Regions from separate parts of the Homo sapiens genome. Here region 2 is linked to region 1. Evidence: fine-mapped expression QTL. A gene starts in region 1. The other region holds a variant in brackets. All regions are shown on one strand. Distances are from middle to middle. Region 1 holds the start of PCDHGA11 (protocadherin gamma subfamily A, 11). Region 2 overlaps PCDHGA1 (protocadherin gamma subfamily A, 1).

The links. PIP is the estimated chance that this variant, and not a neighbour inherited with it, causes the effect. A credible set is the group of variants that fine-mapping cannot tell apart.
Region 2: its variant is the best candidate, but not a certain one, in a credible set for the expression of PCDHGA11 in tibial artery (GTEx, PIP 0.78).

What each region holds. Positions count from the first base shown.
Region 1 is chr5:141,419,133-141,423,525 of GRCh38, reverse strand. PCDHGA11 (protocadherin gamma subfamily A, 11) reads right to left here and starts at 2,475. Exons shown (of 4, transcript NM_018914.3): 1 at 1-2,475. The coding sequence starts at 2,298. All of the region lies in intron 1 of PCDHGA1 (protocadherin gamma subfamily A, 1), which reads right to left. The region is part of intron 1 of PCDHGA2 (protocadherin gamma subfamily A, 2); the gene reads right to left. All of the region lies in intron 1 of PCDHGA3 (protocadherin gamma subfamily A, 3), which reads right to left. It also overlaps PCDHGB1, PCDHGA4, PCDHGB2, PCDHGA5, PCDHGB3 and PCDHGA6, and 9 more genes.
Region 2 is chr5:141,480,450-141,484,842 of GRCh38, reverse strand. The region is part of intron 1 of PCDHGA1 (protocadherin gamma subfamily A, 1); the gene reads right to left. The region is part of intron 1 of PCDHGA2 (protocadherin gamma subfamily A, 2); the gene reads right to left. The region is part of intron 1 of PCDHGA3 (protocadherin gamma subfamily A, 3); the gene reads right to left. All of the region lies in intron 1 of PCDHGB1 (protocadherin gamma subfamily B, 1), which reads right to left. It also overlaps PCDHGA4, PCDHGB2, PCDHGA5, PCDHGB3, PCDHGA6 and PCDHGA7, and 11 more genes. Among named protein-coding and RNA genes, the nearest start is that of PCDHGC4, 2.4 kb to the left of the region's middle. The variant T/C (reference allele first, on the strand shown) is at 2,609.

The DNA.
Region 1 (4,393 bases):
CTTCTGCGAGTCCGCAATGAGAGAGACCTCGTGGGAATAGGTTTGCAGGAAAGCCTGTACCCCGTCCACGCCTACAAAATGTGACGTGGGCATACCTGCCAACCCGCCTTCAGAAGCCTGCAGCAGGCGTGACTTATGCCAGCGCCACAGCCTGAGTGCCAGCAGCACGATGACAAAGACCAGGAAGATGCAGGAGACTGCGGCCACCGCCACCACCAAGTACAGCGAGAGGTCTGAGGTTTCAGAGTTAGCCAGAGACTCGAGGCTGCCGAGGTCCGCCAGGACTTCGGGGATGCTGTCGGCCACAGCCACGGTGAGCGTGACGGTGGCCGAGAGAGGGGGCTGGCCGTGGTCCTGGACGGCCACCACGAGGCTCTGCTTGAGCGCGTCTCTGTCCAGCAGTGCCCGCGCTGTACGCACCTCGCCCGTGTGCTCCCCCACCGCGAAGAGTCCCGGCTCGCTGGCCTTAAGCAGGCGATAGGACAGCCAGGCGTTCTGGCCTGAATCTTTGTCCACCGCAACCACCTTGGTCACCAGGTAGCCAGGTTCCGCAGAGCGGGGCGCCAGCTCCACGCCAGTGGAGCCGTCTGTGGGGAGGGCAGGGTACAGGATCTCGGGCGCATTGTCGTTCTGGTCCAGCACGAACAGGCTCAGCGACACGTTGCTGCTGAGGGGCGGGTCCCCGCTGTCACGTGCTATCACTCTCAGTTCTAAGTCTCGAAACTGCTCATAGTCGAAGGATTGTAGGGCATAGAGAACACCAGTGTTGGAGTTAATAGAGACATAGGAGGACAGAGGCACCCCCTGGACAGTGTCATCCGTCAGAGAGTAAGTGACCAGGGCATTCTGTTTGCTGTCCGGGTCGAGGGCGGTCACTGAGAAGATGGAGGCACCCCTGGGGTTGTTTTCGGGAATGTAGGCAGAGTAAGAGGAGTGAGGAAAAACGGGAGGGTTATCGTTGTCATCTGCCACATTCAGCCAGACATGAGTTTCTGCAGACAAAGGCGGGCTTCCCTGGTCTGTGGCTGTCAACGTTATATTGTAGCTCTGGACCAACTCCCTGTCCAGCACTCTGCTTGTTATCAATTTGTAATAATTTCCATAAGTCTTTTCTAATTTAAAAGGCAGGTGGTTAGGAATAAAACAGGAGACTTGACCATTTTCTCCAGAATCTTGATCTTGCACATTTAGAAGAGCAATCACTGTACCTGGAGGAGAGTTTTCCAGAATTGAATTAATAGAAGAGGTGATAGTTATTTCTGGAGCGTTATCATTCACATCCACAACAGTGATCAACATCGTCGTGGTGGTAAAGAGACCTCCACCATCTTGGCCTTGAATTTCCATCTCATAGAATCTATATTTTTCAAAATCCAGAGACCCCCGTACTTGAACTTCTCCAGTTTGTGAATCCAATTGGAATATTTCAGAAGCCTTGCTTTCCATGTTCCGAAATGAATACATTACTTCCCCGTTGATTCCCTCGTCTGGATCCGTTGCATTAACCATCAGCACCCGAGTTCCGGAGCTGATGTTTTCTGGAACACTCACGCGATATACGGACTGTGTAAACATTGGGATGTGATCATTTACATCGAGGACCACCACACGAATGGGAACTGCGCCCTTTCGGATGGGATCGCCTCCATCTAAAGCTGTGAGGAGGAGCAGGTGAGCAGCCTCTTTCTCTCGGTCCAGGCTTCCCTCCAGTACTAGCTCTGGATTCTTGGCCCCATCCGTTCTGCCCCGCAGTTGCAAGGAAAAGTAATTATTAGGGCTGAGCTGGTAGCTCTGGAGGGAGTTCACGCCCACATCTGGATCCCTAGCATTAGGAAGAGCAAATCGCGCCCCAGGAATTGCGTGCTCACTGACTTTTATCTCCACTTCGTCCTCCTGGAAGCTGGGGGCGTTATCATTAATATCTATTATTTCCACCTCCACTCCGTAAATCTTCAAGGTGTCTTCCACGAGAAGTTCCATATTTAAAAAACAGGAGGACACCGTCTCACAGAGCTCCTCCCGGTCTATCCTGCCTGCCGTGATCAAGCTGCCGCTTCGCGGATTCACAGCGAAAAGCTGTGTCTTCCCTCTGGAGACGATGCGGACTCCGCGCTTCGCCAGCTCCCGGGGCTCCAGCCCCAGGTCCTTGGAGATATTGCCCACGAAGGAGCCCTTTTCGGTCTCTTCTGGCACCGAATATCGGATCTGCCTGGCCCGGAACCCCCGCAGCGTCCCCAGGAAAATGCACAGCAGCAGCAGCAGCCGACTGCGGTCCCCGCGCTGTAGCCGATTCGCCATGGCAGGCTCTAAGCCGATATTCCGCGGTTTCTCGAGCTGGTTGGTTGTGAATCGGCTTATGTATCTATGAAGTCCTAGGCCGACTACATCCAAAATATATCAGAAAGCGAAGGAAAATACTTCTAAGTCTCCAGTGTCAGGATCTGTGAGTATCCATCTCATTCCGCTTTGTGTGGTAGAGGCGGGGGAGGGAGGGACTCAATGGCGCGCAGCTTCCCATTCCCTGATTGGTGAGCAGCGGCGCCTAGAGCCCATTCTTATTATTGCAACGACTAAGAAATTCCAGAAGAAATGATTACGCTCACCTTTGTGAATCACACGTATTTGTAGAGCTTAAAAACGATGATACACAATACTTACATTATGTGACGTTAAAACTTTACCAAGAACACCTGCGAAAGGAGTAATTATTAAAAGGGCTTGCTTAATTTTTAAAAAGTTTTCAAAATATTACTGGAGCTGAAAACTTGTAGGTTGTAGTTGGTTCCAATTGATTTTAACCGACTGAAAGGAACGACATTTCTGGAAGTGGAAATAATACGGTCCCGATAAAATCATCAGGTAGGATGCCTAACTATAATTCTTACAAGGTTCCTTTATTGAGTAAATGAAGATGAAATACTTGAGAAAAATTGAGTAGCATCAGGGTTTCAATTAAAATACCATGCCGTAAAAATATACCTGTATTTTATATTTTTAACCGAAAGGTATTTTACTTCATAAAAATGTCACCGGAGATTACCCATGTAGTTTGCTTTAAAATGTCTTTGAATAGTAGGAAGACTGAGGCATTTAATTTAAACTTTTGTTTTAATAATGATAACCATAAATTTGACCTATATTTTGCGAACTCTATGAAGAAGTTATCTAGAATCTTAAAATAATACCACTATATTGGAATATATTGGCATATTGTAATATAAAAAGGATTAAATACATTTTTAAATACTTACCTGTTTAAGAATCTTCTTATCTGCTTCAACGCTGGGAGTTAAAATGCTAGCCAGTAGCATGCTATCTTTGTTGAGGTTATCTTGTGTGGCTGGACAATGATCAACAGATGTGAAAAAATTAAATTCTGGATTCATTTGATCCCCAGGCACACAAAAATTATAGGCATAGGGCAACGTTCCCTCACTGTAGTTGGGGGGACCCACAGGTCCGGACTTGGAGCAGAGAACTGACTCAAAGCAGTCTCCTGCAGTAGGGCTGAAAGACTGTCGCAGGCGTAGAGCAATAGCTAGAATCACCGCGAGGAGAAAGAGCACAGAAATCAAGGCCAAGGCCACCACCAGGTAAAACTGCATCTCAGCCTGGGAGTCAGAGGGTGTGGGATGGTCGCTGAAATCCGGCAGTACCTCTTGCAAGCTATCTGCGAACACCAGGTGCAGCGTGGCAGTGGCTGAAAGGGGTGGCTGTCCTCCATCTCTTACAGCGACTAGCAGGCGCTGGCGGACCGAGTCCTTGTCACCCAAAGCACGCACCATGCGCACCTCGCCTGTTCGCAGCCCCAGGCTGAAGAGCCCGGGCTCACTGGCCTGCACCACGTGGTAGGACAGCCAGGCATTGTGCCCCGAGTCCGCGTCCACGGCCACCACCTTGGTCACCAGGTAGCCTGGCTGCGCGGCCCGCGGCACTGTGTCGAAGAGCGCGGAGCCGTCGGGACCCAGCGCAGGGTACAGCACCCGCGGTGCGTTGTCGTTACGGTCGCCCACCAACACGCGCAGGCTCACATTGGCGCTGAGCGCGGGCGAGCCCTGGTCGCGGGCCTGCAGCGTGAGCTCGAAGGTGCGCAGCTGCTCGTGGTCGAAGGCGCGCTGCGCGAACACCACCCCGCTCTGCGCGCTCACGGACACGTAGGACGACAGCGTTCGTGACTCCAGGTCGCTGGCAATGAGAGAGTAGGAGACACGGCCGTTGAGCCCGAAGTCTGGGTCAGAGGCACTGACTTGCGCTATGGAGGCACCCGGCTGGTTGTTTTCTGGCACGTGGACCAGGTAGGCTGACTGTCCGAAAACCGGCGCGTTGTCATTGACGTCAGTAATGTGCAGGGTTATGGTTTTGCTGGAGGATAACGGAGGCTTGCCCCTGTCTG
Region 2 (4,393 bases), 61 kb before region 1:
AGCCTATCTTTTCGCCTTCCTCCCGCTCAACGGCATGTTTTTCCACGGGTTGTTATCTCTGTGGGGAGGCAGACAACATATATATATATATACATTTTTTTTCCTAACACACCGACTGACCCCGCCCCTTTTCGGCGGGGAAAACAGCCACAGCCTGAGCCCTAGCAACCTGCGGCCCACTGAGAGGGAGAGTAGCCATTGGAGAGTGGTCACTTTGTTCAAGCCAGTGTTGTCATCAACCAGTATTCTAAATGAGTAGCTTCCGTCTCAGTCTGATTGTATTGGAGCAACTGCTAATTAGAACCACTGCCATATACTCAAAACTCTGCCCTTCTGCAGAATATTCAGAAACGGATCCATCTCTTTGCAGAAAAGGCTTACACATTAACGTAGCCAATTAAATTTATGCAGTACATGTTCTCATTGTAACAGGAGACACAGCGGAAACCAAACCTTTCTTATTCAGACATTTGCTAGTGATACACTAGATACACTAAATTACCATTCATTGATTTCAAGGACAGTATGGAAGCGGGGTGGAGGAAGCCAGGAGAGGGAGATGTTTCAAAACAGTAAAGAATCAGTGTGTCTGGGAGGTGCTAAGGACCAGATCTCTTTACCTGGCAGAATGCTAATGTTCATAGATTTAATAGCTTCCTTGAATGATTGAGATCAGCTACCAACAGCATTGTGCCTACAAATTCCCTTTATCTGACACCAAGGTATTCTTGATCTTTTGTTAATTACCAACGAAGACCATTTCAAAAGAGCAAGCTTTTCACTTAGCCCCAGGGGACCTCTTGGAGCTGGAGACTTGATCTCACCCCACCCCCACCCTCATCCAGACCTCCCAGCAACCTAGCTACTCCCTTGCACAAGCACAGAAACACAACACAATTCACACCGTAGGTACCTACGACCTGCAATCTGAGTGGGAAACACACCAGAGCTCAGAGAAATAGAAAAATCCATCCTGATCTGGACATGAAATTTCTTAATTCAACCAAGTCCTTACCTAGGTTACACTGGCTGCCAAAAAAAGCAGCAACAACTGGAGTTCTTATCCTTCCCCAATATTTTTCCAAGCCTCGATCCTCAGGAATATCCTTTTGACTATGGTGGGAACCAATATTCTGGTGTCAAAAAGAGGAATCTGGCTTTCTGTGTTCTTTTACACACACACACACACACACAAACACACACCCCTCTATACCTTCTCCCATGGGAATGATGGAGGTGTAAACCAGCCTGACCTATTAGGTGTTTATGCCAGAATTCACTGTCTCTGTGAATGGCACTGTCAACCACCCAGCTTCCTTAGTCAGGATCTAGGGGGATCAGCCTTGACTCATCCCTGTCCCTCACTTCCTATATCATGTCAATCAACAAGTCCTGATGATTTTATTGTAGTCAGCTCCCTCCATCTGTACTGCCACTGTGCTGGTTCAAGCATTTATCAATCTTCTCTTCAAATATTGCAATAGCTTTCAAACTATTGCAAAGAGATAAGATCTCTTTGCCTCCAGTCCCAATGTCCCCAGTCCCTTCACTTATGACTGACAGAATAATATTTCTAAAACAAAAAAACCTCATGATATATGCATATCAGTTCAAATTTCTGCAGTGACTGTCATCTATATGGAATAAAATAAAAACTCCTTGGCTTGGCCCAAAGGTAACTCAGGATCTAACTCCTGCCTACTTGCTTCACCTCATCTCCTACAAAGACTGTCTGTTTTACACGCACACTTTTTTTTTGAGATGGAGTCTCTCTCTGTTGCCCATGCTGGAGTGCAGTGGCCTGACACCAGCTCATTGCAACCTCTGCCTCCCGGGTTCAAGCAATTCTCCTGCCTCGACCTCTCAAGTAGCTGCTCAAGTAGCTGGAATTACAGGCACCCACAACCACACCTGGCTAATTTTTTGTATTTTTAATAGAGATGAGGTTTCACCATGTTGGCCAGGCTGGTTTCAAACTCCTGACCTCAAGTGATCTGCCCACCTTGGCCTCCCAAAGTGCTAGGATTACAGGCATGAGCCACCGTACCCGGCCACACACACAGTTTAAGGTTCAGTGATAATGAAATACCATAATCCCTCTGCATGGAATTTCTTGCAATGGCCCCTCCCTGCCCTGTCCTTTCCCCTTTACTGTCTGACAAGCTACTACTCAACCTTTAGATCATAGCTCAAGCATCACCACCTCTATCATTTCTTCCTTTCTCCAGGCTCATTTAGGTGTTTTTTCCCGTTTGGTCCCACTGCATCTTATGCTATGCAGATCTCCATTATCTTTTTTTTTTTTTTTTTTTGCATGTCTGTCTCATACTGTACTCTGGGTACCAGAATGATAACTTTTAATTGTTTACAGTGTCTGGCACATAGGGATGCTAATAAATGGTGAATATCAGTATTATCATTTTTAGTTCAACAAATAGTTATTGAGTACTTGCTCCATACAGGGACTTTATATGCATTACTTTTCACTCTCACAACAAGTTTGCAAAGTAGATATTCTCTTTATTTTATAGATGAGGAAACTGGAGTTTAAAGAGATTAAAAGACTTACCTAAGCTAAACAACTAATATGTACAGTACTATACTTATA[T/C]TGGCAATTTCACACCAAAACAAGTACCTGGTCTGTTTTACTAGAACTGGAGCATCGTAAAGCCTTAATCTTACATATCTTTGACTTGACCTTTTTATGCCAGCCATATGATTCTCCCATCTCTAGATATTTTTTTTTTTTTTTTGAGATGGAGTGAGTTTTGTTCTTGTTGCCCAGGCTGGAATGCAACAGCATGATCTTGGCTCACTGCAACCTCTGCTTCCTGAGATAAAGCGATTCTCCTGCTTCAACCTCCCAAGTAGCTGTGACTACAGGCACCTGCCACCACATCTGGCTGATTTTTTTTTTTTTTTTTTTTTTGAGATGGAGTTTCGCTCTTTCACCCAGGCTGGAGTGCAGTGGCGCGATCTCGGCTCACTGCAACCTCCACCATCAAGCGATTCTCCTGCCTCAGCCACCACGCCTGGTGAATTTTTGTATTTTTAGTAGAGACGGGGTTTCACCATGTTGGCCAGGCTGGTCTTGGACTCCTGACCTCGTGATCCGCCCGCCTCCGCCTCCCAAAGTGCTGGGATTACAGGCGTGAGCCACCAGGCCCGGCCTGATTTTTGTATTATTAGTAGAGATGAAGTTTCACCATGTTGGCCAGGCCGGTCTTGAACTCCTGGCCTCAGGTGATCCGCTGGCCTCAGCCTCCCTAAGTACTGGGATTACAGGCGTGAGCCACTGAGCCCAGCCCCATCTCTAGATTTTTACTGAGACATAATTCACATACCATGCAAATCACATATTTAAAGTGTATAATCCAATGGTTTTCAGTGTATTTACATGTACTAAACTGATACAATCATCATCACAATCTAATTATACAAGAATTTTGTCACATCCCTCCAAAAAGAACCCAATATCTATTGAACAGCTGTAGATGTTTAAATAATAGTTGTCCAGGGGCTAGTGCTTTAGGAAGGTTTTTCCCTTAGATGACTGAAATACCATTTTATGTCTTCCTACAGTGATCTTTTAGAGCTATGCTATGTAATACTTTAAGGCTGGGAGACCTTACCATGTTTTTTAAAAAAATTGGGCCTGGCCCAATAAAGCTGGATTCTGGTTCTGCAAATACCAGAATAACACTTTACTTCACAAATATGCTAAATGATGGATTGGTAGGTTCCAGAGTACTGCTTTTCTTTTTTCTTTCTTTCTTTTTGTTTTTGAGGTGGAGTCTCGCTCTGTCGCCCAGGCTGGAGTGCAGTGGTGTGATCTGGGCTCACTGAAACTTCCACATCCTGGGTTCACTGATTCTCCCTCACTGATGCTTCCGCCTCAGCCTCTAGAGTAGCTGGGACTACAGGTATGCGCCACCATGCCCAGCTAATGTTTGCATTTTTAGTAGAGACGGGGTTTCACCATATTGGCCAGGCTGGTCTCAAACTCCTGATCTTATGATCCACCCACCTCAGCCTCCCAAAGCTGTGGTTTTCAAATTTGTCTGCACATTAGGATCAAGTGGGGACCTTCAAAAAATGATGCCTATGTCCCACCCCCAGAGACTGTGCTTTCATTTGTCGGGGTGTGGCCTGGGTTTCAGAATTTTTAAAAGGTCTCTAGGTGATTTTAATGTGCAACCAAGTTTGAAAACATTGTTCTAGGGAAAATGCCAGTTGCTTTCCAGGCTGACCAGAAGAGCGGCAGTTATTTCTTGCTGGCTTTCATGCTTTCTTAGCCTTTTCATATGTGCTTCTACTTTGTCATTTTTGGTTGTTCTCATATGTGTATTTCTAAGGTGTGTTTGAGATTTTAGGTGAGTGAGGAACTAATAAA